Regions from separate parts of the Homo sapiens genome. Here region 1 is linked to region 2. Evidence: fine-mapped expression QTL. A gene starts in region 2. The other region holds a variant in brackets. All regions are shown on one strand. Distances are between the middles of the regions.

Region 1 (15,243 bases), 25 kb before region 2:
CTCTACTCCTGCTTTTACCAGAGACAGTTGACGTAAATTCTCATGACATCAGCCAATTTGAGTCAGGGTTCTGCTATATTTTTCATCTGATAGAGCCCTGCCTAAGATACCCACTGTATGGGCTATGGAACTTCCTTGCCTTCTTTTCTTTTCTTCTCTCTTTTCTTTTCTCTTCTTTTCCTTTTTTTGAGACAGAGTTTCACTCTTGTTGCCCGGGCTGGAGTGTAATGGCGTGATCTTGGCTCATTGCAACCTCCCCCTCCGGGGTTCAAGCGATTCTCCTGCCTCAGCCTCCCGAGTAGCTGGGATTACAGGTGTGCCCCATGATGCCTGGCTAATTTTGTATTTTTAGTAGAGACGGGGTTTCACCATGTTGGACAGGCTGGCTGGTCTCAAACTCCTGACTTCAGGTGATCCAACCACCTCGGCCTCCCAAAGGCCGAGGGATCACCCAGAAGACAGGAAGACCCAGGCCACAGAGAGAATACTGCAGATATCATGAGCCACAGAGCCCTGAGCCACTGACCTGTCTCCCAGGTCTTGGCTTGGGCCTCTTCCAGAAGCAGACACTTAGAGAGTCCAAGGGCAGGGAACTTAGCGGGGAGCTGATCGCAGGAAGCTCTGAGAGCAGAGGGGAGGGGGCAGCTGGTACTGCTGGGTGTCTAGATGAGCAGGTTATCAGTTGGGCAGCTGGGGCTCCGTCCTGCTGGGGCCTCTGGGAGTGGGTGCAGAGTCCACCTCAGGGTTGCTCCTCCCCAGGCCCCAGGAAGCTGGAGGATTTACCAACACCCCCATCCAGCAAGCATAGGCCAGAGAACCACTGCAGGAAAACAGAAACCTCTCCCCTGGACGTGGTGCCATCAGCCCAGAGCTGCCAGATCCCCAGGCCTCCATCCTCATCTGGATTGAAGCAGCCATCCGCCTGGAAAGGGCCTGTCTGCCTGGAAAGAAACTTCAAATGCGGCTTTGGGGGGATTCCAGAGACTGTCTGTTCCCATCTGTGCAAGAGGGACACTGAGTGTTCAAAACCTAAGGAGGCCTCGCTGTGAATCAGGCCAGAGCAGGGGCTCACCTGGGAGGGGGGTCTCCTGACATTGTGCCGGCACCTGCTGGCCTCACCTAATGCCTGGCCCTGCCTGAGAGCAGACCAAGGGAAGATGAGACTAGAACTTTAGGAAGATCGCTCTGGCCGCTGGATAGAGAAGGGACTGTTGTGGGGAATGGGGGACGAGGGTAGAGTCAGGGAGGCCCAGGAGGGGTTGTTGCCACTGTCCATCCATGCAGTGAGGCCCAGAGGGGTAGTGGGAGTGAGGGAGGCTGGGTTTGCAACTCTGGGGTGAAGGGACCTCCATTTTGTTCAGTGATACGCCCTGCCCTTCTCTATCCCATACAAGCTGTGTGACCGTGGGCAAATTACTTCACCTCTCTGGGCCTCAGTTTTCTCATCTGTGAAATGGGGGCATGCTTCTCTATACCCACCTATATCTAGAGGGTGATTGTGGGATTATGAGTTAACACGTATATAGCACTTGGCCTGTAGTAAGTGCTACAGAGTGTTGGCCTCTGTTCTTATGATAGTTATTGTTACTGTTAGTATTAGTATTCTTATTATCGTCATCTCCCTCCAAATTTCACACCAGTGAATCCAGACTCCAGGCAGCCATGTAAATCTGGGGTTTAACTCTTGAAACTGAGTATGTCATCCACTTATCTTGCTATGACCTCAAGAGTCCCAGCCCCAGATATCTGAGACCCTCGTACCCCCTCCCAGTGCTCCAGGACCTGCCTCACTGAATTCCTGACCCTGATCGCAGTCTACCCTGTCGGGCTGGGGCACTTGGGCCGTGTCACCTCAGTGTGGGCCTAGACAAGGGAGCTCATGGCATGTCCTCCCTCCTGTTTCTCCCTGCCTGTGCGTCTGACCCTGTCAGTTGAACCTGTGACATTTGCTCCTACAACTGGCCACTTCTCTGTCTCTATGGCCACCACTCTGTCCAGGCCACCTCTGCAACTATAACAGCCTCCTTGATAATCGTTGACTCAAAAGGGAGGTTTTGTGTTCAATTTCCTTTATTTATCTATCTATCTATTTGTTTATTTATTTATTATTTTTAGAGATGGGGTTTCGCCATGTCACCCGGGCTGGTCTTGAACTCCTAGACTCAAGCGATCCACCTGCCTTGGCCTCCCAAAGTGCTGGGATTCCAAGCATGAGCCACTGTGCCTGGCCCTTGTGTTTAATTTCAAATCACACAGCCTGTTGCACAAGTTCGAATAATATAGAAGCATATCTAGGCCGGGTGCGGTGGCTTACACCTGTAATCCCAGCACTTTGGGAGGCCAAGGCGGGTGGATCACGAGGTCAGGAGTTCAAGACCTGCCTGGCCAAGATGGTGAAACCCTGTCTCTACTAAAAATACAAAAATTAGCTGGGCATTGTGGTGGGCGCCTGTAATCCCAGCTACTCGGGAGGCTGAGGCAGAGAATTGCTTGAACCCAGGAGGCAGAGGTTGCAGTGAGCCAAGATTGTTTCACTGCACTCCAGCCTGGGTGACAGAGTGAGACTCTGTCTCAAAAAAAAAAAAAAAAAAAAAAAAAGAAGCATATCTAAACTTAAGACCTTTTGTTAACTCTGGAAAGATGTTAATAGTAGTGATTTCAGGGGAGTGGTTAGGGACAACTGGTTTCATATCATTTGCATTTCATTGCTTAGATTTTGTGACAAGTGAGCATTGCTTTTATATTTTAAAAATTATGTTTAAAACATAGGTAAGACATTTAAATGGGAAAAAATTCAATGACAGAAAAAAGTATCCAATGAAAACGAGTGTCTCTCCCCACCCTTAACCCCCAGGTTTCACTTTCCCTAAGCAATGCTGCTTCCAGTTTCCCACGGGCTCTGCCACTGAAAGTCTGTACGTACGAAAACACACATGATTGTATGCACTCTTTATTTACATATATAGATGCATGTTACACCCAGTGTCTTGCAGCTTGCTTTTTTTAACCTAACATACCTATCATTCTTTCTAATTCATCACACATACCTGTGTTGTCCTTTTTCACAGCTGCATAGTATTCCACTGCATGGCCGGACCATATTCATTAATAGTTATTTTCTTACTGATGGCCCTTTAGGTTGTTTCCAGCCTTTTCTGTTATAAAGCAATACTGTGGACCAGGCACAGAAGCTCACGCCTATAATCCCAGCACTTTGGGAGGCTGAGGCTGGAGGATTGCTTGAGCCCAGGAGCTTGAGACCAGCCACAGCAACATAGAGAGACTTCATGTTTACAAATGAAATAACAAGCTGGTTGTGGTGGTGCGTGCCTGTGGTTCCAGCTACTCAGGAGGCTAAGGTGGGAGGGTCACTGAGCCCAGGAGGTTAAGGCTGCTGTGAGCTGTGATTGCGCCACTGCACTCCAGCCTGACAGAGCAAGGCCCTGTCTCAAAACAACAACAACTACAAACAATACTGTGGTGACTGTCTTTGTACATAGTGTGGTGTGTGTGTGTGTGTGTGTGTGTGTGTGTGTGTGTGTGTGTGAATGTATCTGTGGGAGAAATCTCTGGAAGTCAGATTTTATAACAGATTTGTGCATTTTACATTTTGATCCATATGACCAAACTGCACTTTGTAGAGGTTGTACCAATTTATTCTCCCACCAACAATGTGTGAGGGTGCCTGTTTCCCCACAACTTCATCAGCACCATGTATTGTGAACTTTCTGATGTTTTTGTCACTCTAATAGATGGAAGCAGGTGTCTCAGTATGGTTTCAGTTTCTATTTTTAAATGAAGAGTGAAGCAGAGTACCTTTTGCTTGTTCAGTGAAGCATAGTGTCATTGGCCAGGCGCAGTGACTCACGCCTGTAATCCCAGCACTTTGGGAGGCCGAGGTGGCGGATCACCTGAGGTCGGGAGTTTGAGACCAGCCTGGCCAACATGGCAAAACCCTGTCTCTACTAAAAATACAAAAAATTAGCCAGGCGTGGTGGTGGGCACCTGTTCTCCCAGCTACTCGGGAGTCTGAGGCAGGAGAATCTCTTGAACGTGGGAGGTAGAGGCTGCAGTGAGCCGAGATTGTGCCACTGCACTCCAGCCTGGGTGACAGAGTGAGACTCTATCTCAAAAACAAACAAAAAAACAGCAACAAAAAACCGTAGCATCATTGTCACATGTCAGGAAGCTCCATTGTAAAATATAAAAATAATTTAAAACAAAATAAACATATAATAATAATTTAGGCCAGGCGCAGTGGCTCACGCCTGTAATCCCAGCACTTTGGGAGGTTGAGGCGGGTGGATCGCCTGAGGTCGGGAGTTCAAGACCAGCCTGGCCAACATGGTGAAACTCCATCTCTACTAAAAATACAAAAATCAGCCAGGCGTGGTGGCGCGAGCCTGTAATCCCAGCTACTGGGGAGGCTGAGGCAGGAGAATCGCTTGAACCCGGGAGGTTGAGGTTGCAGTGAGCTGAGATCAGGCCATTGCACTCCAGCCTGGGCAACAAGAGCGAGACTCCGTCTCAAATAATAATAATAATTTAAAACAAAATAAATTATTTTGTTTTGTTTTCTCCTTGAGCCTCCATACCGAGGCCCATGATATATGTCCCTGGATGTATATGTGTCCTTGTGAAACAAGCAGAATTATTTTATGATGAGTGTTCTGATTTGCAGAGTTCTCCTGTTCCTCACTTGCTTTCCCCGGCGTTCTGTTTCCCAGATCTCTGCCTGTAGCTGTGCATGGCCAAGTGTCTCTCCCCATGCTGAAAAGCCACTTACTTCATTTCTCTTTCTTTCTGGGTGAGCTGTTGCTCATGTGGAACATTTTTGGGGTGGAACATTTTTCAGTCATGAGGAAACTTGGACCCTCAGTCGGTTTCCTTTGAAGCCAGGGAGACACGTGGGGCTGGAGGGAGGGCACCCCAGCTTTCCTGTGACTCATCTGGGTCCTGCTGGGCCACACAGGCAGTTCCCACATGGCAGGACCACGCCTGGGCAGCCCCCTGCAGGCACTGCTGGCCTAGCCTTGGGAGGGGAGCTTGTAGGGGTTGTGAGGGGCGCTCAGAGAGAGGGCTCATGGCCAGGACTGTCCCCTTTAAAGCTGCCGGACTTCAGGCCTTCTCTTTGGGGCTCCCCGACACAGCCCAGGGCCCACCCCTCTTTGTGGGCACAGGATGGGTGTGGAAGGGTAGGGGCTAAGTCACAGCTCTTCAGCCCTCAGCATCTCAGCTCTCCCCGAGTCTCCTCATCAGTAAGACGGGGAGGACCACTGGGGTAGCTGAGTCACCTTTCCTGCCTCCCTTTGGCGGCCACAACATTCTACTCCAGCACCCACGCAGTCTCCAAGGGTCTACTGAGCACCTGCTATGCACCAGGCATTGGACATACATAAAGCAGCAAACCACGTGCCTTCCTGGAGCCAACGCCTGGTGTGTTTGGTGTGTGTGGTCAGCAGACTCATGCGCCCTTCCCCAAGACGTCCTCATCCCTGGAACCCGTGAATGTACAAGGTTACACGGCCAAGGGGAATGGAGGCTGCTGAGCAGTCTCCTTGAGCTGGGGGAGACGACCCTGGATTACCCAGATGATGACATCGTGACCCAGTGTCATCACAAGGGGCTTAGTGCAGGAGGGAAGCAGAGGTGTTGCAGGCGGAGGGATGCAGCATGGGAAAGATGGCCTCGCCGTTGCTGGCTTTGAAGATGGAGGTTGGAGCCGTGAGCCCAGGAATACAGGTGGCCTTGAGAAGCTGGAGGAACGGATTCTCCCTGTGAGCCTCTAGAAGGAACGTGGTCCTGCCCACACCTTGATTTTAGCCTGCTGAGACCCACTGTGGGCTTCAGCCCTCCAGAACTGTAAGCTCACACATTCATGTTATTTCCAGCTCCCAAGTTCACGGCGATTTGTTACAGCAGCAACAGGAAAGGGAAACACAAATAAACACGTGTAACATATGTGTCCCACCATCCTAAGCACAGCAGGGTCAAAGGAAGCCAGATGGAGGCTAAGGACTGTGGGGGATGTTTGCATTTTTAAACAGAGTGAACAGGTAGGGAGGGTCTCACAGAGAAGGCGACATTCAAGTAGAGGTCTACAGTAAGCCATCTGCATAATGGGTGAAGTGAACCAGGCAGAGGGAATAGCGTGTGCAAAGGCCCTGAGGTGGGAGCAGGGCTGCTGTGTTCAGGGCTGAGCAGGCACCATTGTGCCTGCGTAGAGAGATCAAGAGGGGACAGAGGGAGGAGAGCCCATGGAGGTTGTGGGGGTGCGGGTCAGATGAGGGCCTGGTGTATTAGAAGCTGCTGGACAAATGCATTCCAAGGTCCTACGAGCCATGCGGGGACAGAGCTCCCAGCCTCCAATGGCAGAGCATGTTTCTCCAGAAGCAGGGCTTGATCCGCCCTGTTCCCAGCTCTGCCCAGGCCTGCTGAAGGGGTTTGCACGTCCCTGAAGTAAGGAAGGGGTGTGCTTACCCCCTCTCTGCCACCAGCTCTTACCTTCTAGGCCAGCCCATTGCTTGGAATGTTTTCTTCATCCCAGTGCCTGATACAGCCTGGTCCTGGCAGGAAGCGGAGGCTGCAGTGCACCCAAACAGAGATATCGTGACCTTCCT[G/C]TCACCCTGGAACTGCCAGGCCTAGAGGAGAAGGCGGCACTGCCTCCCTTGGGATCAGGGCTCAGGGGTTGCCCTGAGCTTGGGCAACAGGGCTGCAGCCGAAGGAGAAAGGTCACTGTTTCCTCTTCACTTCCTGTGCTCTGTGACCTGGGGCTGGTGGCTCACCTTCTCTGGGCTTTGATCTCATCTGTGCCACGAGCAGTTAGATGAATCATGAGTTGCAAAGAAACGGCCTGCAGCCACATCCCGTCCACAGATGTGTTTAAATGTTTTAAATTAGTTGCCAATACTTAGAAATTGGGAAACTTCTTGTAAATCTCTAGATTTCTGGTTTTTCTTGAGAAACCAGATATGGCAGTGCTTGTGACTAGAGCTGAGTAGCAGCTGCCTCCGTCCCCACCCAGCTCCCTCGGTGGTTTCTGGCTCCTGCCTGGCTTTTGGAGTCTATGAGTTTGCAACCCTGGGCTCTAGAGGCCCTTCCAGCTCGGATTTCACTAATTCATGCAACAGAAATCCTTTGAGTGTTTAACATGTGTAGGACTCAGAGATAAGTCTGTTTTACAGATGATGGAAGGGAGGCTCAGAGAGGGGTTGTGACCTGCCAGAGTCACACAGTCAGTGGCGGGGGCTGCATCTGAGCCACACTGGCAATAGATGATCGATCCAAAAGGGCTTTAGCCAAAATTCATTGAATACTGACTATGTGCCCAGTGCCAGACCACAGCCCCTAACCAGACAGACAAGATCGTGACTTCCTGGGCCGATATGGCAGTCCCTGGAGCCGAGTGATCAACAGATAAATATGTAATGACACCTGGGCTAGCTGGGAAGGTGCAGATACAACCTGGGGTGGTCACAGGGAGGGAGGGGGCGACATTAGCGCAGTTTCCTAAGGAATGAGGGTTTGAGGCCAGACTCGGTGTGGACTCCCTTCCTCCTCTCATGTCTAGTATGGATCCTTTGGCAAGGGCCAGGAGACTGGAAGGGGAATCCCTCCTTGTGGCCGATTTTCCACTAAGACGGTGGTGACGCGTGGCTCAGGAGCCAGGCTGCCCGCCAGGGTGTCTGCTGCTCATCCACCATGCGACCTCAGACAGGGACTTAATCTCTCTGCACCTCAGTCTCCAAATCTGTAAAATGGAGTCAATTTGGGTGTCTAGCTCACAGGGGCGTGGTGGCAGGATGAAGTGAATTACAAATTCTAGTAAGTGAGTCACCTGGGACATTGGGCTGTGGTCTACAGTGAGGTGTGATCCCTGAGGAGAGAAAGAGAGGCTACAAAGATCAGAGCGTGTCCATCCTCTGAAGGACTGGTCAGGGATTAAAGGACTGTAGGAGACGTGGGACACGTGGTAGGTAAAAAAAAGCGGCCGTGTGTGCTGTGTAGTCCGATCTCATGGACAACGGTGGGACTTGAACCACTGCTGACTCTACCTGCAGGAATTTTCCACCTCGGTGGAGGGTGGGACTAACCTCCACAGGAGGCTGGGATTAGTATGTGGTCATCTATCCTCTGGTGAACCCAGCCAGCCGGGGGGCACCTGGGCAAGGGTTTGAGGAGGAGGGAGGAAAGTGGAAGGGAGGGAAGACGGTTGTGCCTGGAGGCGCAGAATCCTGTGTCTCCTGGCAGGGAGGAGCTGGGGTTCTTGGCCATTTCTGAGCAAACAATAATGTCTTCCCAATACATTGCAGGCTCACCACTGCCATTCTCTGTGTGCCTGACAGAGACAGAGATGCACAGGCCTTTCGCCCTCCACCTCCTCTCTCTCTCTCTCTCTCTCTCTCTCTCTCTCTCTCACACACACACACACACACACACACACACACACACACACCCCCCACCTGGATGCATCTTCACCTCTCACCCCCTTTTAATGTCCCAGGAGTTCAGCCCCAGCTCAGCCTGCTGGTTCAATGCAGGAAGAAAAACCACAAGTTTCCATTTTGTCCATACAGAGAAGGGACTGGGGCCTCAGTAGAGAGGCAGTGCCGAAGCCCCAACCCCTCACCCCACCGCCTTTTGCTCCCCATCATCCTTGGATCTCCCAGGAGAGGAATTATCCCAGATCAGAAGAAGATGGAAGCAGGAATGAGGGAGGGTAGAGGCTGAGAGACACCTGTACAGTCCTGCTCTGTCCCTCACCTGAACCTTGCAGGCAGGTAGTGAGCCTTCAGTAAATGTTACATGGATGGATGGATGGACTGGTGGATGAATGGGGGTAGATGGGAGAATAGATGAATGGGTGAGTGAATGAGTAGATGGGTGAGTGGGTGGATGAATACATAGGTGGATGGAAGAATAGGTGAAATGAGTGGGTCAATGAGTAGATGGGTGGATGGATGGATGGATGGGTGGATGGATGGATGCATGGGTAGATGGATGGATGGATGGATGGTGGGTGAGTGGATGAAAGGGTGGATGGGAGAATAGATGAATGAGTGAGTAAATGAGTGGATGGGTGAGTGGATTGAGGACAGATGAATGGGTGGGTGGGTGAATGGATGGCTGGATAAATGGATGGATGGATTGATAGACAGGTGAGTGGATAGATAGATGGATAGATGGGTGGATGGAAGAATGGATGAAATGGGTGGGTAAATAAGTGGATGTGTGGGTGGGTGGGTGGATGGATGGGTGAATGGGAGAATAGATGAATAAGTAAATGAATGGATGGGTGAGTGGATGAATGGATGGATGGATAGATGGATGGACAGATGGATGAATGAGTGGGTGAGTGGGTAGATGGATGATTAGGACTTAATCCTGAGAATACTGGACTTGGAGGAAAATTACTGGGTCATTAGGATCCTGACCACAGAGTCATCCAGGCCAACTTCACCTCCTCTCCTCCTGGTTCCCTCAAGCCCAAGCATCTTCAGGGAGAGGAATCTCCTCAGAGCAGGAGGATAGAAATACAAGGTAGAAAGGGAGCAGGTAAGGGATGAGAGGACCTGTGGGAACATGGGTCTGGACGAACAATAACCCAGCCTCTGTGGTATCTGGCTTTGTACAGCTCTGGAGTCAGGCAGCCGGGGTTCAAATCCCAGCTCTATTGCCTCCTTGCTGTGTGACCTTGGACAAGTTACTTCACCTTCCTGGGCCTCTGCTTTTTCATTGGCCAAATAGGGTAAAAATAGTACTTCCATGAGCTAAAGGTTGTTATGAAGACTCTGTGGGAGGACGTGAGGCATTTTGCACTGGGTGTGACATGCTGTTAGTCTCAGTAAACATCAGTGACTATTATTTCATGCTTGTCATTGTTCCATGTGCTTTCTATAAATGAGCTCATTTGATTCTCTTAATCTATGAGGTGTGGGCTAGTATTTTTTCCATTCCACAGATAAGGGCTGGGGAGGAGTCCTTGGATGGCTCAACTGGAAGGAAATCTCCCCAGACAGCTGCTGTTAGCAGGAAGGGAGTTTGGATCTGGGGCCTTCCACAGGGTCTGCGGCAAGTGGGTGTTGGGATGAATTGGAGAAAGATCATTGAGAAAGCCTCGGGTTGGAGTTAACTTGTCTTGAACACCTCTCTGACACCTGCCAATCTCCTTTTTAAGAAAGACACAACAGCCTCAGGCTTAAATTTTTTTTTTCAAGAGAGTATCGATTTTCTAAAGCCTCAGGCTTAGAAACTACAGTAGCAATCATACCCTGTGAGAATTTGATAACTTTTTCACATCTTCATGGAATTTATATGCATAGGGTTTTCCTTTCTTTCTCTCTCTCTCTTTCTTTCTTTTCTTTTTTTTTTTTTTTTTTTTTTTTTGCTATTTATAGCAAGTATGTGCTGATACTGGCTTTCTGTTTCTAGTGATATTGTCAAGATTCCTTTAAATGAGTTTCTTTATATAAAAAGAAAAATGCTAAGTTGTAATAGAACAGAGGGTATAAAGATGTGGCAAAAACCAAACTGAACACACACACACACACACACACACACACACAACCCCAGAGATCATGGAAAACAGTTTACTTAGCACATGCACGCAGTCATCCAAATCACACTGGCTCTCATTCATTCATTCATTTACATGTTTGTTCAACAAGTACTTACAGAGCACCTACTATGTGTTTGTACACAGAGAACAAGATAAAGTCCTCTTCTTATGGAGCTGACAACAACCCGGCAAAGAATCAAACAGAATCATTTCATCAAGTCACAAGTACAATGAAGGAAACTATGAGTCTGTTCTCACACTGCTATAAAGAAATACCTGAGGCTGGGTCATTTATAAAGAGAAGAGGTATAATTGGCTCATAGCTCTGCTGGCTCTACAGGAAGCATGGTGGCATCTGCTTCCTGGGAGGCCTCGGGGAGCTTTTACTCATGGCGGAAGTTGAAGGGGAAACAGGCATCTTCACATGGCTGGTGCAGGAGGAAGAAAGAGAGAGGGGAAGTGCCGCACACTTTCAAACAAGCAGATCGCATGAGAATTCACTATTGGGATGACAGCTCCAAGGGGGATGGTGTGAAACCATGAGAAACCGCCCTCATGATCCAATCACCTCCCACCAGGCCCCATCTCCAACATTGGGGATTACGGTTGAACAGGAGATTCGGGCAGGGACACAGATTCAAACTGTAACAGAAACACACATGTGAGAGAGACGTGTAAGGAGATTTGGAGAAAAGGCCTCCTTTGGCTGGGGTGGTCGGGGATGTCCTCTCTGCGGAGGCGACATGTCAGCTGGGACTTGGTTGATAAGAAGCTGGCTGTGGGGAGACCATGGGGAAAGACTTGGCATTAGGAACAGCAAGTGCAAAGGCCCAGTGGCAGGACCCAGCCTGAACGTTTGAGGAGCAGAAAGAAAGTCAGTGTGGCTGGAGCTGAGTGAGTTGGGGGAGAGTGGGAGGAGAAAAAGTCAGAGAGGGAGCAGGGACCAGAAACCTAGGGCCTCGAGAAACATGGGGATTATTTTTTTACAGGGATGTTAGACATTACTACTATCTTTTAACAATGGGCTGGAGGAACCCACACAGATGGAGAAAGGGTGCCTCAAAGGCCCACCACGAGCTCTTGGGATGGCGGTGCAGCTCCATGCAAGTGCAGCTGAGGGTACCTGTTGAGGAGTTTATTGTCCTAAGCAAGGGGATTTGAAGGAAGGAATGGGGGGCTGAGGCCAGCTGCTGCCCAGGCACCCGGGTTCAGCCCCTTGAAAGATCTCCTTGCTTCAGGGAGCCAGGCTGGGACTGGCTTAGCCCATCCATCTTAAAAAAAAAATATTTTTTGAGATAAGGTCTCTCTCTGTCGCCCAGGCTGGAGTGCAGTGGCACCATCATGGCTCACTGCAGCCTCCACCTCCCAGGCTCAAGTGATCCTCCCACCTCAGCCTCCCATGTACCTGGAACTACAGATGTGCACCACCACATCTGGCTAATTAAAAAAAAATTTTTGCAGAGAAAGGTCTTGCTGTGTTGCCCAGGCTGGTCTTGAACTCCTAGGCTCAAGTAATAAAAAAATTTTAAATCATCCAAATAACTCATGGAGATATTCTCCTTTTAATACATTAAAACATCATATGTGAGGCTCTGAAGTCCCCACCTGGGCCCCAGCACTCCCAGCTCCCCTTGTCCTACTTTCTCCCATAGTTTTTAGCACATCTTCCGTACTGATGTCTTCCTTGTTTGTTTCATGTCTGTCTCCCCAGGGAGAATGGCAGAGCCACAATAGGAAGGTATTGGCTTGTTTTCTTCCCTGCTGCCTCCCTAGCACCTGGCATGGTGTCTGGAACATGGCAGGTGCTTAATAAATATGTATGAAATGGATGAATGAATGAAGTCATAAAGAATGAGAACTCTCTATCCCCATTCCAGTCCTTCCTTGTGCCCCAGGAAGTAACTCATCTTACCTCTTTGGAATTTGCTCTTCTACATCTTATCCCCATGGTTCTCAACCAGGGCAGCTTTGCCTCTCAGGACACATTTAGCAATGTCTGATGACATTTTGGTTGTCACAACTGATGGGGGCGAGGGGTGCTACTGGAATCATGCCGGTGGGATGTTGCTAACCATTCTATAATGCATAGGACAGCCCCTTAGCAAAGAATTGTCCAGCCGTAAATGTCAGTAATGTCAAGGCTGTTGTTTAGATCCTGGAATGTTGTACTGCTGTTAATGGGGAGGTTTTTCTCTGCTGACCTAAAAAACCTCCAAGATTGGTTACTAAGAGAGAAAAACAGGCACAGAATGACGCACACAATATGATACCATTTATATTTTAAAACGCACCAAAAAAAAAAAGCCCTTTGTATTTTCCACAAGTCTATATAAACGTGTGTGGGTTGAGTTGGGTTTTTAGCTCTTGCCACAAAAGCAACTGGGAACTGAAGAGAGTTGGACGGGATGGTCTCCAGCATCTCTCCAGCCCGGATGTTCCCTGAATCCTTAAGTGGAGCAAACACTTGCTAAAGGAAGCGCCATCTCTAAGAAGGCAGGGAGACCAGGGCGAGACTTAGCAGCGGGAGGGAAGAGCAGGGATGGCAGGAGGTGTCCAGAGGCAGGGACACACACTGTGTGCTAAGGCCCCACCACTCCCAGGCATGGCTCCCAGACTGGCGGCTGCTGCGTTGCCTGGGAGTGCATTGGAGAAGTAGCATCCCAGGCTTCACCCCAGACCTACTGAGTCAGAATCTGCTTTCCCACAAGCCCTCCTGGTGAAGAATGGCTTTTGGCTTAAAAACACCCAGAGACACTTTTTTTTTTTTTTTTTTTGAGATGGAGTCTTGCTCTGTCGCCCGGGCTAGAGTGCGGATCTCGGCTCACTGCAAGCTCTGCCTCCTGGGTTCAGCCTTTCTCCTGCCTCAGCCTCCCGAGTAGCTGGGACTACAGGCGCCCGCCACCACGCCTGGCTAATCCTTTGTATTTTTAGTAGAGATGGGGTTTAATTTCACCGTGTTAGCCAGGATGGTCTCGATCTCCTGACCTCATGATTCGCCCACCTCAGCCTCCCAAAGTGCTGGGATTACAGGCGTGAGCCACCGCGCCCTGCCCAGAGACACATTTTTTATCTTACAAGAGAGAAGAGTGGATAAAACTGCATTTCTCTCTGTTTCCACATCTCTCTTAAACATCTTCTAACACTTTTTCTGCTTTAGTGGAGGAACAAAGAAGGAAAAGAAAATGTAAACACACAAGTGCGTGCGTGCACCCACACACACACACACACACACACGCAACATCAACGATGTCATGTACAATCCAAGTGATGGCTAACAGGCACGTATTTCTTTAATGAGCACCATTTCCGATGAAAAACATACTTCAGGCTCCGTGCAATTCTTCCACCAAGATTTGCAAGCTCTGGGGTCATCGTAACCTAGAGGTTAGACGTGATGCTTTGGACACATGAACAACAGTCTTGGCAGTAAAACCGTTTGACAGCATGATGCCCTTATGAGTTCCATCATCTGGAGCAGAACCCATCAGATGGAGCAGAGCCTGTCATTTTTGGTAGGGAGCGGAGCCTGCTGCAGCTTAACCTGGCAGGACCTTGACTTTGATTACTGAGCTCATTCAGGAGCTGCCTTCACCATAAATCCATCTTCTCTATCGGCACAAAGTCAGGCCTTTTATAGCAACCATCTGTATAAACAAAGTATTCTTGTGTCTAAAAAAATGACTTCTTCTCTGGATAAGATTTTTTTTTTTTGAAACAGAGTTTTGCTCTTGTTGCCCAGGCTGGAGTGCAGTGGTGCAATCTTGACTCACTGCAGCCTCTGCCTCCCAGGTTCAAGCGATTCTCCTGTCTCAGCCTCCTGAGTAGCCGGGACTACAGGTGTGCGCCACTACATCCGCCTAGTTTTGTATTTTTAGTAGAGAGAAGTTTTCACCATGTTGTCCAGGCTGGTCTCAAACTCCTGATCCGCCCTCCTCAGGCTCCCAAAGTGCTGGGATTACAGGCATGAGCCACTGCGCCCAGCCTTTTTTTTTTTTTAAACAGAGTCTCGCTCTGTCACCCAGGCTGGAGTACAGTGGCTCAATCTCGGCTCACTGCAGCCTCCACCTCCCGGGTTCAAGCAATTCTCCTGCCTCAGCCTCCTGAGTAGCTGGGATTACAGATACCCGCCACCACACCCGGCTAATTTTTATATTTTTAGTAGTGATGGGGTTTCACTATGTCGGCCAGGCTGGTCTCGAACACCTGACCTCTGGCAATCTGCCCGCCTTGGCCTCCCAAAGTGCTGGGATTATAGGTGTGAGCTACCACACCTGTCCTCTGGGTAAGATTTTTTGACTTAATTTTCCCTTCACCTCCAACTCCCTTGCTTAAAAATATCAAGACTGAGCCGGGCATGGTGGTTCATGCCTGTAATCCCAGCACTTTGGGAGACCGAGGTGGGCAGATCATTCGAGGTCAGGAGTTAAAGACCAGCCTGGCCAACATGATGAAATCTTGTCTCTACTAAAAATACAAAAATTAGCCAGGCATGGTGGTGGGTGGCTGTAATCCCAGCTACTGAGGAGACCGAGGCACAAGAATTGCTTGAACCCAGGAGGCGGAGGTTGCAGTGAGCTGAGATCGCGCCACTGCACTCCATCTTAGGCAACAGAGTGAGACTCTGTCTCAAAAAAGAAAAAAAAAAAAAGACTGGACCAAAAAAAAAATTGTAATTTTATTCCCCA
Region 2 (15,243 bases):
TAGGGTAGCTTCATGGGCTCTGTAACTGTGGCTCTCCTCTGCTGCCATAGAGACAGACTGCTTCCTGCAAATATGTCTTCTCTCTGTAATTCTTCACTATACCTCCTCTGTTTCTCTGAACCAAACGAGATCCAGGAGAGCTTCTGCTGCTAATCGTATTCACCCAAGCTTCTACATTCATTTTTATAAAGAAGGAACATAACTTTCATCTCATGGCAAGCCCTCATCCCTAGGAAGTGTAGTTTTGCTGATGCTTTCTGAGATTTGCTATCACTGAGCCCACTCACCACTCCCATGTGGCTTCTGCCCTGTCTTAGCTGCTTCACACGTACTCTGAAGCCGATGAATTATATGTCTCTCCTGGCTTTGCTAAAAATGGAGTTTGTGGTTTGGTTTTGTATATTTGTTTTTCCATTATTCTTGATGCTCTGGTATAATTTCTAGAAGGAGAGGGTAAATGTGGCCTTAGGCAGCCATTTTTCTACCCCCACTATCTAACTGGATCCTCTTTAGTAACTCCTTGACATAATAAGCAAAGCAGCTATGACTGCTGTCCCATTTTCAAGATGAGAAGCCAGAAGTTCTGAGGTTCTTGGGGTGCTTCAGGGTGGCAGGAGCATCATCACTCAGGGTCTGTCTGGGTGACAGATCAACATGGGTCTCTTTTCTCCTTGCCTTCCATGCTAGGCTGGCTCTCAGGCAGGACAGCAGGGAGTTGAGGAGACTGAGGTCTGACTTCATCATTTTTTCCACTACAAAGTGCCAAGGCAGCTGGTTGGGAGCCGTGAGGCCACCTGTCCCCCGTCCTGGGAAAACCAAAGGATGAGAAGCTTGCTGGAGTCCCTCTCCTGTAGCACCCACCACCTCTGGCAGATAGCCTGGGAAGAGGGGCAAGACCACTCCAGAACATCCTCTCACAGGCTAAGACAAGGTCTAGGTGGAATTAGCCTGGGAACGCTGAACGAAAGGCCGCCTGGCCCAGCCATGTTTGCATCTGGGTAGCTGCCCCACCTCTGGGCTCTTAGCCAAGCACATTCCCTACATAATCCTGGCTCTCCTGGGGAAGGATGCTGGAGGATGGCTCCCCTGCAGCTGACATCCTTGCACTTTAGAGACCTTCAAATCTCCAAAGGCCCAGGCCTGTGCAAATTCTTAGAGACAGTCAGCAGCAAGGCCCAGATGGCAGAAAACAGGTCATTTCTTCCAACCCTCTGCCTCTGATTCAGACCTGCTTTCTCTTCATGTATAAAAAAGACCAAGTGAAGAGGTTTTCTGTCTTTCATTTCTTCAGTAAAATTCTTGATAAAGAGGCCTGCACAGTGTTGGCAAATAAATACTTGGTAATATGTGCTGAAAGAATTATGCTTCATCTCTTTTGTTGTTGTTGCTGTTGCTGCTGCTGCTGTGTTGTTGTTGTTGCTAAGACAGGGTCTCACTCCGTCGCCCAGGCTGGAGTGCAGTGGCACAATCTCGGCTCACTGCAACCTCTACCTCCCGGGTTCAAGCAATCCTCCCACCTCAGCCTCCTGAGTAGCTGGAATTACAGGCGCACGCCAGCATTCCTGGCTAATTTTTGTATTTTTAGTAGAGACGGGGTTTCACCACGTTGGCCAGGCTGGTCTTGAACTCCTGACCTCAAGTGATCCACCCATCTCAGCCTCCCAAAGTGCTGGGATTACAGGCGTGAGCCACTGAGCCCAGCCTTGCTTCATCTCTCTTTCTTTTCTTTTTTTTTTTTTTTTGAGACAGAGTTTCACTCTTTTGCCCAGGCTGAAGTGCAGTGGCGCGATCAACCCCCGCCCTTCTGGTTTCACATGATTTTCCGGCCTCAGCCTCCTGAGTAGCTGGGATTACAGGTGTCCCCTACTACACCCAGCTAATTTTTGTATTTTTTAGTAGAGACGGGGTTTCACCATGTTAACCAGGCTGGTCTCGAACTCCTGACCTCATGATCCTCCTGCCTCAGCCTCCCAAAGTGTTGGGATTACAGGCGTGAGCCACTGCAGCCGGCCTAGCATCATCTCTTTTATTAAGTGCCTACTGCATGCACTAGACACAAGATCTTCTTGAATTCGTCCAACCACCATGGGAGGGGGGCCTTGTCGTCATCATCCTCTTGTACAGATGTACCAAGGCTCCAAGAGTAGAAAGCAGCCTATTCTAATTTAACTGGTACAAAGAACATTCAACCAAAAGGATTCTAAAAAGTTCAGAGATAAAGTATACATTAGTCAATTCTTGTTGCTTAAGAAGATCTCAAAATCTCCATGACTTGTAACAACACGTACATTTTTCTTCTTCGGACCTCTGCAGGTCAGCTAGGGGTTCTCTACTTCAGGCTGCAGGTTGAGCTCAGGTTTGCCCTGTGGGTCATGGCTCAAGGCAGAAACCAAGGTCAAGTGGAAATATGTGATTCCTCGTGAAACCTCTGCTCAGAACTGGCAACTGGTCATTTCTTCATCCTCCACTGATCAAATTGAGTCACAGGCCCGAGTCCACCATCACTGAGTCAGGGAGATACTATTCTCTGCTCATAGTGGGAGGCACCGCAACCCTGCAGCCAAGGGCGTGAATGTCTAATTCTGATACAGGGAGTGGGTAAAAATTGGAGACTATGATCTAATCTACTGCAGCACAGTTCCAGGGGTGGCTAATTAATTGTGTGACTTAGCAAAGATTCTCCTCAGGCTCCAAGGTGGCTGCCACAGCTCTGACCCAATCTCTGGCCACTCACACGCTACGCTGAGGTGTGGTGATAGCGTGACCAACCTTCCTGGTTTACCCAGGACCGAGAGGTTTCCCAGGATGCAGGGCTCTCAGTGCTAAAACTGGGAAAGTCTGGGCAAACCAGGATGCGTTGGTCACTTGACGTGTGTAGCAGATTGTTTCTGAACGTTTGGGGGTAACTGGGGCAACATGTGAGTGTGTATGTGAGAGTAGTGCATGTGTGTGTGTGCGTGTGTATGTATATGAGTGTATGTGTGGTGTTATTCCACAGCCCAAGACAGCAAACAACTAAACACTCAGTATGACACATCACCAATAGAAATGGTCATTTATTGGCTCCTAATTCCACAGAGGATGTCACACTGGGACAGGCCCCCAATCTGTGCTCATGTCGGCCTGGTCTTTGCCCCCTCTTTCAGGCTGCCCCCTAAAACTCTGTTGTCCTTCCTTAATTCTACAGAGCAATTTTGTTCAACATCCCAACTCCAAACCTATTTTACATACCCCAAATGTTTAAACCACTGGCCCTTGGCACAACTAGACTGCAGGGCTAAAAATCTGGGGGCAGGTGTGTGCTGTTGGTCTATGCAGCGTTTTAAAATAATTGGAGCCATTATTTCTGGCTTCTCTTGAGTCTAAAGATCTGGCCACACTAGGCATGTATTTCTACGTGGCTTTAGTTGGCTGGTACTGCCAGAAGCTGCTTCCTTTTGGATGGGGCAGCCCTCTCTAGTTTTCCATTGTTCCCATCCCTCCCTGTTGCCTTCCTGATATGACTGGCTCACTTCATTCATTTGCAATACTTGCTCGAAGACTTGAGTTTACCACTCTCTCTTTAGCAGCACAAAAACACCAGAAACGTTGCGGTTTGGGTCTCTCCTTCCCCTCCACCTCTCAACCTCGTTTAGCTTCTGTAAGTGGAAGAATTTATTCTTGCATTGTTCCAGTTTTAGACGGCAGCTGTGCTTCCTTTCGTAGCTGCAGCAGCCATGAAAACACACCTCTGGGACCTCCCTTGGTGGAGCCTGATTGACAGATATGCCATGCTTCCCAGGGTTTGCTCCTAGCCAATCACTGGGGGAAGCAGACTTGTTCTTGGGAGACATAGGGCTCCTCAGGAGGCTCAAGGACAACCTGTTAGCCTTGAACTAACTTACTTACTTTCTTTTTCTTTCTTTCTTTTTTCTTTTTGACAGAGTCGCTCTGTCACCCAGGCTGGAGTGCAGTGGTGCGGTCTCGGCTCACTCTAATCTCTGCCTCCTAGGTTCAAGCAATTCTCCTGCCTCAGCCTCCCAAGTAGCTGGGATTATAGGTGCCAGCCACCACTCCTGGCTAATTTTTTGTATTTTTAATAGAGACGGGGTTTTCACCTTGTTGCCCAGGCTGGTCTTGAACTTCTGACCTCAACTGATCCACCCACCTCAGCCTCCCAAAGTGCTGGGATTACAGACATGAGCCACTGTGCCCGGCCAGACTTGACCTTTCTAAGAATGCACTGCAGCCCACGGTCCCTTCTTTCCTCTGTCCCTTCCTTCCATTTGTCCTCCTTTCTGTCCCTTTCTCCCAGCCCTCTCTGGCTCCCTCTTCATTTTACTCCCTGGCACTCCCTCAATAAGCCTTTAGTATATCTCATCTCATCTTGGCTCTCCTGGAGAACCTGCTCCTAACCGATTTGGAAAAATCAAAAGGTAGAGAAAGAGAGGGCTTCCAGGCAGGTAAACAGCATGAGCAAAGGTGTGGAGGTGGGAAGGCCCAGGGTGTGTTTGCAGCACCAGGGAGTAAGTTAGCTTGTCCTAAGAAGCCATCAAATTCCCATGCTCTAGCTTATCAAAGGAAGTACTACGTGACCTTGGGTGAAGTGACTCTTTCTGGACCTTGATTTCACCATCTGTGAATTCGGAATAATTTTACTACCCATTTTATAGGTTCTTTGTGGGGAATAAATAAATTATTATGAAAAAGTGTTTCAGATGGCTTCAGTTACTAACTAAAGTTAGAACTATTGTTACAAAAAAATATTTAAAACTGCCCCTCTCTGTTGAGACTGGTTTTTAGCCTTGAAGAAGGCAATACACATAATATTTTCCTTTCCGGACACAGTTTATTTGTAGCCTTTAGGATGCAGACATGAATCAGACCTGATCCTTGGAAGAGAGAAAGCAGGGGTGTAGGGTAGAAGGGCTCCCTTTCCCAGGCAAAATTCCCTGTGTTCTAATTGGGTTGGGTCTTGACATTACTCTCACAACCCCACAGTGGCCACAGAAGAGAGCAGAGGCTTGGTGAGATGGGAGAGTTGCCTAGATGTCTTGTTTCTACTGGACAGTGAACATCTGAACACACTGAGGCTCCTACAGGGAAATGTCTGGATGTTCGTCCCTGGGAGAATAAATTTTCCCGGGGGTCCAGTTTCCCTTCCCCAGAGGAGCTTCCCTTCCCCAGAGGAGGGCTTAGATGGCACACTTGGAAGCTCTCTCGGTGGCTCCCTGCTATCACCACTACCAGCAACATGCCCATTGCACAAGTAAAGTAGTTGAGGCTCACAGATTAAGCGACTTGCTTAGGTTTATATGGAAAGCAAAACTTGCTTTTCAAATCCTTGCGTATTCCAGCCCTTTTGCCATGGGCTAGAGGGGTCTTCCTTGGGATGGTCTTCCCTCATCTTTATTCTGAGGCCATATCAGCTCTGTCCTCAGCAGGGTCCTTTGAGTCCTCCCGGGGCAGGGGAATTCGGAATTTCTGCTATTTTCAAGGCCTGCCTGTTCCTCCAAGATGCCATAGCCAGAGGGTTGGATGTCCTGTCAGCCTGATAAACATAGAAAGCTTACACAGTAAGCAAAGTAAAAATAATAAAACAAAGCAACACTTTTGAATTCTCGCATGGGCCAGTCCTGCAGAGGTGCTCCGGATGCATCATTGCCTCATTTGGTCCTCCCTTCAGCCATATCTAGAAGGCGTCTCAGTTGGGAATGTCTTTGGCTGCAAGTATTAGAAAAATCTGACTCATGGTGTCCTAGCACAGACGTGTGGTTAGCTCATTAAATGAGAAATCTATAGGCAGGTGGTTCCAGGGATGGTGATTCCGCAGCTCTGGTTTGGGGCTCTGCAGTTTTCTTGGCCTTCCCTCATAACACTACAGCCCCCCTCAGCTCCCCCACTAATCACATTCCCACACGATTGCCCCCAAAGCAGAAGAGAAGGCAAATAGGAAGGAAACACATTTTTCTAGAAGCCCGCAACAGATATCTGGAAGGTGCCCACCTCAGGACAAATCACTAGCAAAGGTGGATTTCCTGGACCAGCTCAGACCCATGGTGGGTCATTCTCTGGGAAGGGGGCCTGGCCACCTTCCTAAACATATGCCGACTCCTGAACAAATCCAGGAAGAACCAGAGGCTCACATTCATCTCCCTTTGGTGTGTGAGCAGCTGCCTCTCCTTCCCTGGGAGGATTTTGTCTATGGGTCGAGAAGGGAAGAGAGTATCTGGAAGAGATATTTGTATTGAGGTGATATTGGTCTGCACTGAAGCCAGGGGTGGGGAGTAGAAGAACTAATATTTATTGAGTACCTATTGTATACCAGACCCTGTGCTGGGTGATTTCATTCTCTTTTCATTTAATTCAGTTCTCAAAGCAGCCCCATGAGGAAGGAACTGTTCTTCCCATTTTTCAGATGGGAAAATTGAGACCAAGCCTGATCACAGATAATGGAGAGGAGCGGAACTGGTATAAGCGCTAATTGCGGTTAACTTTCCCTGATGCTCATGGTGTGACAGGCACTCACATAGGTGTGCCCCATGGACCAGGTCGTTTGTTCCTGACCTCAACTCCATGAGGTTCTCTTTTCCCCATTCTGTCAATGAGGAACCTCAGCTTAGGGAGGTGGAGCAGTCTGCTTGGGGTCACAAAGCTGAGGATCGGCCAAGCCCAGCTGTGAACCCCACTGCTAGCAGACAGCCCTTTGGAGCTCCCCAAATTTGGAGAAAATCCTCTGGACCCGTTCTATGGCCTTCTTGGGATTGTTGGCTTCTCTGGCAGATAAGCTGGAAAAATAAACAAGAGGATCAGAAAACTCCTTTTGCCTCCTGCTGTTCTGAATCTGCTGAGGCCACAAGGGGGTCATCCAGCTGCCTCGACAGCCAACATTAAGCAGGCAAATGAATGAATCTTGAGTATGATAGCAGGACATGTGAAGTACTGCCAGAAAAAAAAACTATCAAAAAAACAAAGAAACAAAAATCAGTAAGAGGAGATGACTGTTTTAGACCAGGTGGCCAAAGACAGCTTCTCTGCAGTGACAGCTGAGCAGAGATAGAGGCACCGGGGAGGTGGTGGAAAGAGCAGGCTGTGCGAAGAATGCTCCGAACAGAGGGAACAGCACGTGCAAAGGCCCTGCAGTGGGACCTCTAGGGAAAGATGGGGAGATCAGTGTGGCTGGAGCAGAGTGGGTGAGGGAGAGAGTCGGGGGCATAGGGTCAGGCAGGTAAAGGTGAGAAGGGGCGGATCATGCTGGTTCTCGAAGGGCCTTGTCAGGACCCTGGCTGATAAGGATGGAAGCCAGGAGACCAGGAGGAGCAACAGCTTCTCCAGAGCTCTGCTGGGACTATGGAATGAAACGTGCCTAAGCTCACCCGGCACTGAATGGGTGGATACAGGACTAGAACAAGACCTCCTGGGTCTTACCTCCAGGTTCAGCCCATGGTTTCATAAAACTTAGTGTGCCAAGCACTCAACAGTTTGTGATTCCTTTTAGTGTCAAGCTCTCATCACTTCCTCACAACAGCCCCAGAGGTAAGCACAACTCTGCCCTCCCTGTTTCCAGATAATGAGGTGAGCTCAGAGAGGTTGAGCTACCTGCCCAACGCTTCCCAGGGTGGGAATGGGGATGGTGGGGGCAGGGGCGTGGAGTGAGGCTGGATTGACCCCCAGTTCTCATCAGCACCCTGGGGTGGTACATTGCAGAGCCGCGGGCACAGGGGGCTGGCACCCCAAGCACCAGGTAGCGATGACAATGGCCACCACATCCGGAGGCCCTAACGTGCACCAGGTAGAGGGTGCATACTTCACGGGCACTATCTGTCCCCAAAGCAGGTGAGGATGAGGGGACTCCCTGAGACACCCTTGTACCCCCTGCCCAGTAGTTACTGAAGATACTATAGGGTGCGATATAATCCAGACCAGCCCTCCCAGCCCAGACCACAGAATGGAAAACTCCAGGTCCCCAGCACGCCTGGGGTGGGGGATGGGGTGAGGAGGAGCCTTGGGGGGTTTCCTCTGTCTAGGTGGAATGTGGAATGTGGTGGGAAAGCTCCTCCTGACCCCCTTACACTCCTCCTCCATGTTCGTCCCCTCCCACCACATTTTCTCCTCCCACTGTGCCCCCTCCTCCCCATACCTCCTTGGCTGTTTCCCCATCGTCCCGCCGTCTTCCCACATTCCCTCCTCTTCCCTTCCCCAAAAGTCCTCTCCCATCTTCCCCATCCCTCTTCCCTCCCCGCATATAATCTCTTCCTTCCTGTAAATCCTCTCCCTCTCCCCTCCCTTCCATCACCCCCCAGTCCACCACATCCCCCTCAGTCCCCCATCTATCTCCTTTCCCCTTGATCACTCCCCAGCCCACCACATCCCTTCCGCCCCCTCCCCCTCCCCCTCCTTCTCCCCTCCCCTCCCTCCCACATTTTCCATCAGGCCTGAGCTGGGGGGAGCAGGGTTTCTAACAGAGCGCCCCGGTCCGACCCCTGCGGACCTCGGAGGGCCCCATCCCCCACCCCCCCCACCCCGCCCCAAAGCGGGCTGGGGTGGGCGGAGTGGGAGGGGCGCGCCGGGTGGGGGCGGGGAACTTTACCTGGGAGTGGGCCAGGCCGCCAGCCCCGCCAGCCCCGCCAGCCCCGCCAGCCCCGCGATGGCTTGGGCCGCGCTCCTCGGCCTCCTGGCCGCACTGTTGCTGCTGCTGCTACTGAGCCGCCGCCGCACGCGGTGAGTGTCCTGCTCCGCTCGGCCCCGCCAGACAAAGGGGGCGGCTCCCGCCCGGGCTGCAGCCCAAGGGTCTCGGAGCCCGCGGCCGGCCCGGCCCGAGTCCCGCTCCAGTATCCCGGGCAAGGCGAGACCCTCGGAGGTGGGAGTCCCGGGGCCCCGCACGTGGGTGAGGGGGCCAGGCCGTGCTCCCCCTGCCAAGAAGGTGCAAGGTGGGAAGGTGCGGGGTCCGGTAGGTCCCCCGGGGCGAATCGCCCACCGCGACAAGTCCGAGTCTGGCCCTTAGCGCGACGGCAGGGACCTAGGAGGGGGTTTCAGGTGAGGACCGAGGGTTTGTGGGTGGGGAGCCGTGCGGGGACAGCCTCTGCGTGGCCCGGGTGGAAGAAGCGCTCTCCACTCTCCAGCCTCTGCCTGCACCTGGCACCCACCTACGCGCTGTCAAACCCTGCCTTGCTTTCGGCAGTCCTATAGGGATAGCCTCGCTCCTCAACCCATTACACAGATGGGAGTGTTGAGCCAGCGGAGTGTAGAGCCCCTGGGGGATGTCTTGATCATGCCCTGGAACCACCCACCCCGGGATTCCCCGTCTGGAAGACGGGGGTCGGTGGGCTTAGTAATTTCATTTGCCAGGGAGAAACTGAGGCCTATGAAGTCTCTACCTTCCCCTGAGGTCCCACAGCCTGGACAGAACGGAGCCAGGGTCAGATGTCACAGCCTCCTGGTCCCAAAGGTTTTCCAGCTCCATTGAGCATCTGTGATTTAGGAGAAAAAGTAAAGACAGCCTCAAATCAAGGAGATAGCTGTAGCTCTCCTTTTCATAAAATATTTTTTAAGTTAACTTGAATTGCATAAGGAATAGCTGAATACATTCGACTTAACACAAATATTTATCCTGTTATAGGTAAGACCGAAGCCCCTTAACCCTCCCCCAGCCCCTGAAGTCTAGTCCTCTCTCCCTCTCTGGGCCTCTCCTGTTGCTGAGTCTGGGTAGAACCTTCCATATTTAAAAAAATATACTTTTTATTTGAGACTAGTTTGGGATTTACAGAAAGTTGCAAAGATAGTACAAAAAGTTCCTGTATTTCTCTCACCCCGTTTTCCCTATTGTTAACATCTTACATTGTTATGGGACATTTGTCGCCACTAAAAACCAACACTGGTCCGTTACTCTTAACTAAACTTCAAACTTCACGGGATTTTATCCAGTTTCCCATTACTGTCCTCTTTTGTTCCAGGATCCGGCCCCAAGTTACCACATTGCCTTTAGTTTTCATACCTCCTCAGTCTCCCAGATGTTTTAAAAATTACTCTTACATAAAAATTACTCTTACATACATAGACATGAGCTTGTAGCTAATACAGAGCCACGTAAGAGAGAGTTAGTTTACATTCGTGTCTGAAAATTCCGGAAACCTTGGGAACTTTTTGATTTTTAAACAATATGGTAGTTGAATTTTCAAACAATAAGCTCACTGTATTTTTCTTCAACCTCCAGACATCTTTTCAGCTGAAATTTACAACTGTGTAGTCAATCATTTGCCTTAAAACAAGAAAAGAAAAAGACAGTGAATAAATGTCTCAGGGAAGAAATGAATTATTTTTCCTGTCAGGCTTTCTCAATACACTGTATAGAAATGTTTTCAGACATTATGTTGCTTGCTCTTTTCACTCCAGATTTTAGTTTTGACATCTGTTCTTTTTGCTACAAGCAGATCTTTTTGCTACAAGGAGATCGAATCCATTCTTTTGATCCTCTCTGGAGTCTTCCATCATGTGAATACGTTATGGGCTCTTTTTTTGTTTGTTTGTTTGTTTGAGATGGATCTTCCCTCTTGTTGCCCAGGCTGGAGTGCAATGGCACGATCTCGGCTCACCGCAACCTCTGCCTCCTGGGTTCAAGTGATTCTCCTGCCTCAGCCTCCCCAGTAGCTGGGATTACAGGCATGTGCCACCATGCCCAGCTAATTTTTGTATTTTTAGTAGAGACAGGATTTCTCCATGTTGGCCAGGCTGGTCTCGAACTCCTGACCTCAGGTGATCTGCCTGCCTCGGCCTCCCAAGGTGCTGAGATTACAGGCGTGAGTCACCGCGCCCTGCTGAGCCTTTGATTTTTATACCTGTGGGCACCTTGGAAGGGTCAACAGTGGGTAGTGGGGAGAAGTGTGGGAATGAGGGTCACTGGCAGCTTGAGGGTAGGTGCATGGACCCTGGGGACCCCAGTTTAGATCCCCAATCTCACTTTCTCCTTCCAGTTCAGCTAGGGACACTCTGGTTATCTCCATTTTACAGAGGAGGAAACAGGCTCAGAAAGGCTAAGCAACTTGCTCAAGGTCTGTCTGGATTAAAACTCTGGGCTGTAAGAATTTTTAGCTTTTACTTTTAGTGATAGGATCTCACACTGTGGCCCAGGCTGGAGTGCAGTGTACAATTATAGCTTACTGGAGCCTTGAACTCCTGGGCTCAGGTGATCCTCTCATCTTAGCCTCCTGAGTAGGTGGGACTACAGGTGTGTGCCACCATGCCCAGTTAATTTTAAAAATTTTGTAGAGATGGCATCTTGCCATGTTGTCCAGGATGGTCTCAAACTCAGCTCAAGCGATCCTCCCACCGCAGCCTCCCAAAGTGCTGGAATTACCGGTGTGAACCACCACGCCTGGCTTTGCAAGAATTTTTAATTCACAGGAAGAATGAATTCTCAGTCTTCCCACACATTATACTGGTAATCTGAACACTCAAAAGTCTTAGAACCATGTGACTTTTAGATACTAAGAAATGCAACTACAAGCAAAAAATTCTTAAAGAAGGACAATGGCCGGGAGGGCGGATCACGAGGTCAGGAGATCGAGACCATTCTGGCTAACACGGTGAAACCTCATCGCTACTAAAAAAAAAAAAAATACAAAAAAAATTAGCCGGGCGTGGTGGCAGGCGCCTGTAGTCTCAGCTACTCAGGAGACTGAGGCAGGAGAATGGCATGAAGCCGGGAGATGGAGGTTGCAGTGAGCTGAGATCCTGCCACTGCACTCCAGCCTGGGCGACAGAGCGACTCCATCTCAAAAAAAAAAAAAAAAAAGGGCAAACAAGTGAAACAAGTGGGTGACCCTGATGCCGTCTGAATGGTGATCCAGTTTGGGTTAAAATAAGCAAGGCTCTCCAGCTCCCTTGTCTCATTTCTTTATCCTGACCAAGCCTTGAGGTAATTTCCATCACCCTTATCATACAGCTGAGGTTTAAAAAGATGAAGTGACTTTCCCAAGGTCATACAAAAATTATACTCCACATCTAGGCCCCTCCAAAATTCATGCTTATCCCAGTAAGACACCACTACTTCTGGGAGTGAGCAACTCCGTCTTTACCTTTAGAATTTAATTTAAAACTTTTAAATTAGGAAACATTTCAACTATACAGAAAAAGAAAAAGAATACGGTAAGAAGCCCCATGTACCTATACCTTGATTTGACAGTCATTAACATTATTTAAAAAATATTAGACATAGGCTGGGCACGGTGGCTCACACCTATAATTCCAGCACTTTGGGAGGCTGAGGCGGGCCGATCAAGAGGTCAGGAGATCGAGACCATCCTGGCTAACACGATGAAACCCCGTCTCTACTAAAAATACAGAAAATTAGCCAGGCGTGGTGGCAGGCACCTGTAGTCCCAGCTACTCAGGAGGCTGAGGCAGGAGAATGGCGTGAACCCAGGAGGCGGAGCTTGCAGTGAGCGGAGCTTGCGCCATTGCACTCCAGCCTGGGCAACAGAGCGAGACTCCATCTCAAAAAAAAAAAATTAGATGTCATGATATTCCACCCTTGAATATTTCAGAATGCATATAAAACTGACAACTACAATTCTATTTTCTTGCCTGAGAATATAAAAAGATAATTCTTAATGTCATGTAGTTCCCAGTTCAAATTCAAATTTCTGCAATTACAGCAAGAATTTTCGAGCCCCATTCGGTGAACATGAGGGTGGTGAGCTGAGAGTTAGGAGTATGGCTTGTGGGCCCCTTGAAACTAATTGATTTGCCTTGTGAGTATCAGAAGCATTCTTCCTGCTTCCCAGGCCTCAGTTTATCTGTACTTCGAGGTGGCTCATGGAGGTGGTCTCTCAAGCCCCAGCCATATCACCAGGCTACTGCATCTCTTCCTTTGGGCTTGTGTGACCACCACAGGGAGCACTGAGAGAGATCTCTTGGTTGGGAGGCTCCTTTTCTGGGGGTCCGGAAGGCATAGTGGCATCAAGCGAGGGTCACTGTGGCCCAGTGGCTGGTCTGGGCCCTTGCAGGATGCAGAATTTGTAGGCACAAATAAATCTGTCTCATTCTAACATGCACTGACCAGAGGTCACCCAACAGTGGTCCGTGACTGGATTCAGCCCTGGATGGGCTGGGTTTGTGCTGTGTGGGACATGGGGAGAAAATTGGGGGATTCCATACACAAAAATCTAGATTTCCAACTTCTTCTGAAAAATGGGAAGATCTAGCAATACTTTCCTGGGACTCAGTGGTAGCACCCTCTCTAAATCTTGCCACAGTCCCCACTACTCCCTATTGCCTCTCCAGCATGCAGCTATTCTAGTTACCACTGTACTTCCTCTGCTGTTTTTTCCTGTGTTGAGAAATAATTCTGTGAATTTGTGTCTATTTCAAAAACCAGAAAACAAAAACTAGGGCAAGGCCACGTGCTTTTTATGCACAGTGGTAGCAGTGCGGGGCAGGTATGGAAGAGCATCTGGGAAACCCTGTTAATGGCAGACTGAAAACCCTGGAGGCCTGTGGGTGAGCCCTGGGGGAAGAATGGGTTAAGCAGGTTAAACAGAATTTTGGGTTGCTCCAGCTCACCTGTGCAACTAAGCCCCCTTTTGTTCCCCATTAAATCCTCCCAGAGCTTAAGGCCCTGCATTGAGTTGAAATGATTGAACAGAGAGGTTGGGCAGTCTACCCAACATTGCACAGCTGAACCATGCCAGCCTCTGCTCTGGACAATCTAGAAGATGGACTCTGTGTCAAGTGCTTAACCTGCATTGGCTTTCTTAACCCTCTCAGCAACTCTGGGAGGCAGGTGCTGCCCATTGAGCACCGACTGCATACATGATTCATTCAGACCAGCCACTGTTCTGAGTGCTGGAGTGAACAACACGCCCTCCCTTCATGGCTCTTCCATCTAGTGAAGATGCGATACGTCAGGGGGCATGGAGGCGGGTGACATCCCATCCTTGACTCCTTTCCCTGGTTCACAAAGGGTCAAGTGGGAGAGAGATCCAGGGCAGGCGACAGGGGTCAGTGAGTGAGGAATAGGCCGTTTTTAGAGGAACCCATGTGATGGGGCTCCAGTCGGAAATCAGAAAAGATGCCTTGGGATCTGACCCAGGGTGGGCAGGAAACCGGCTGTGTGGGCAGGAGCCGGGGATGGAAAGGTCAGGGCCCACCGCCCTGCCCGCCAGGGCCTGGCAGTACCTAAAAAAAAGTGAGAGTGTCCGTGGGTGGGGCTAGAGCCCACAGTCCCCAAAACAGAGCCTCCTTCGCCCCCGCTGGCTGCAGGCTGAGTCACCCTGGAATGTGACCACGGCCTGAGTTGGATTGAGGGCCCAAGGCTGGAGGAGCCAACATCAGGGGTCAGGCGCCTGGGCTCCGGGCTTCCTGCCTTTGTCTGCGCCTCCTTGGGACTTTTCTGGGGAAAGAGGAAAGCTGCCAGGAATAACACCTGGCTCGCTGGGGAGCTCCGGCCACAGCCAGGAGAAAGGCAGGGGAAGAAAGCCTGCTCCCGCCTGCAAAGATGTTTTAGGAGAAAATTTCAGGGCCTGCATTTGAGTAGGTCTCTGGAATATCTCTGCAAAATGGAGGTGAAAATGCCCACTTAGGGTGACTGGGGGCCAGGGTAGTGTCAAGAGGGTGGGCACTGCAGCCAGACCTGTCTGGATTAGAAACCCAAGTCCTCTATGTTGGACCCTCTGGCATGTGACTTAGCCCTCTGCACCTCAGTTTCCTCCTCTGTAAAATGGGCCTGGCAGTAATAATTGCTTCCTCATAAGGTTAGGGGGAGGATTCATTGAGTCACTGGGATAAAGTCCTCAGTGTGGTGTCTCCCACACCATCAGCGTTCATTAAATGTTAGCCATTATTTCCAAACAAGGAAACGTTTGGAAAATGCCAAGTATAGCTCCTGATGTGTAGTTGGCACTAGGTAAATGGTGCCCAGGAATCTTACTGCTCCTGCTTCTCAGCTGCTTCCCAGCTACTAGGTGCCAGGTGCTCTGTAACTCCCCTCATCCTTGGCACAGCCCAATGCAGTCAGTAGCATTATTGCTTCCATTTTACAGATGAGGAAATAGAGGCATGGAGAAGCTAAGTCACACAGCCAGCAAGAAGCGTGGCTGGGATTTGAAGCCAGGAAGTATGGTGCTAAAGTTTGGGCTCATCGTGACCATGCCCTCCTGCCTCTTATGCAAAAATCACTGCTTCTGGGTCCAGTCTGCCAGGCTCTGACCTGGGCTGGAAGGGGGCTGCCATGAACCAGTTATTCCAAGGCTACTTGGGCAGCACGAC

Direction of the effects. Alleles are on the strand shown, and positions count from the first base shown. SD is a standard deviation of normalised expression in the study named.
For the expression in visceral fat of the gene that starts at base 8,606 in region 2, C is the high allele of the variant in region 1 and G is the other (small effect, 0.23 SD a copy in GTEx).

Evidence for each region.
Region 1: its variant is fine-mapped to the expression of PTGIS in visceral fat (GTEx, PIP above 0.99).

The regions. Positions count from the first base shown.
Region 1 is chr20:49,586,091-49,601,333 of GRCh38, reverse strand. LOC105372651 (a long non-coding RNA gene) reads right to left here and starts at 6,764. Exons shown (of 4, transcript XR_001754713.2): 1 at 6,505-6,764. RefSeq lists an enhancer at 5,073-5,573. The variant G/C (reference allele first, on the strand shown) is at 6,621.
Region 2 is chr20:49,561,500-49,576,742 of GRCh38, reverse strand. PTGIS (prostaglandin I2 synthase) reads left to right here and starts at 8,606. Exons shown (of 10, transcript NM_000961.4): 1 at 8,606-8,700. The coding sequence starts at 8,627. LOC101927486 (a long non-coding RNA gene) reads right to left here and starts at 8,699. Exons shown (of 2, transcript XR_244188.4): 1 at 8,570-8,699; 2 at 4,809-5,530. RefSeq lists enhancers at 7,075-7,689, 7,690-8,306.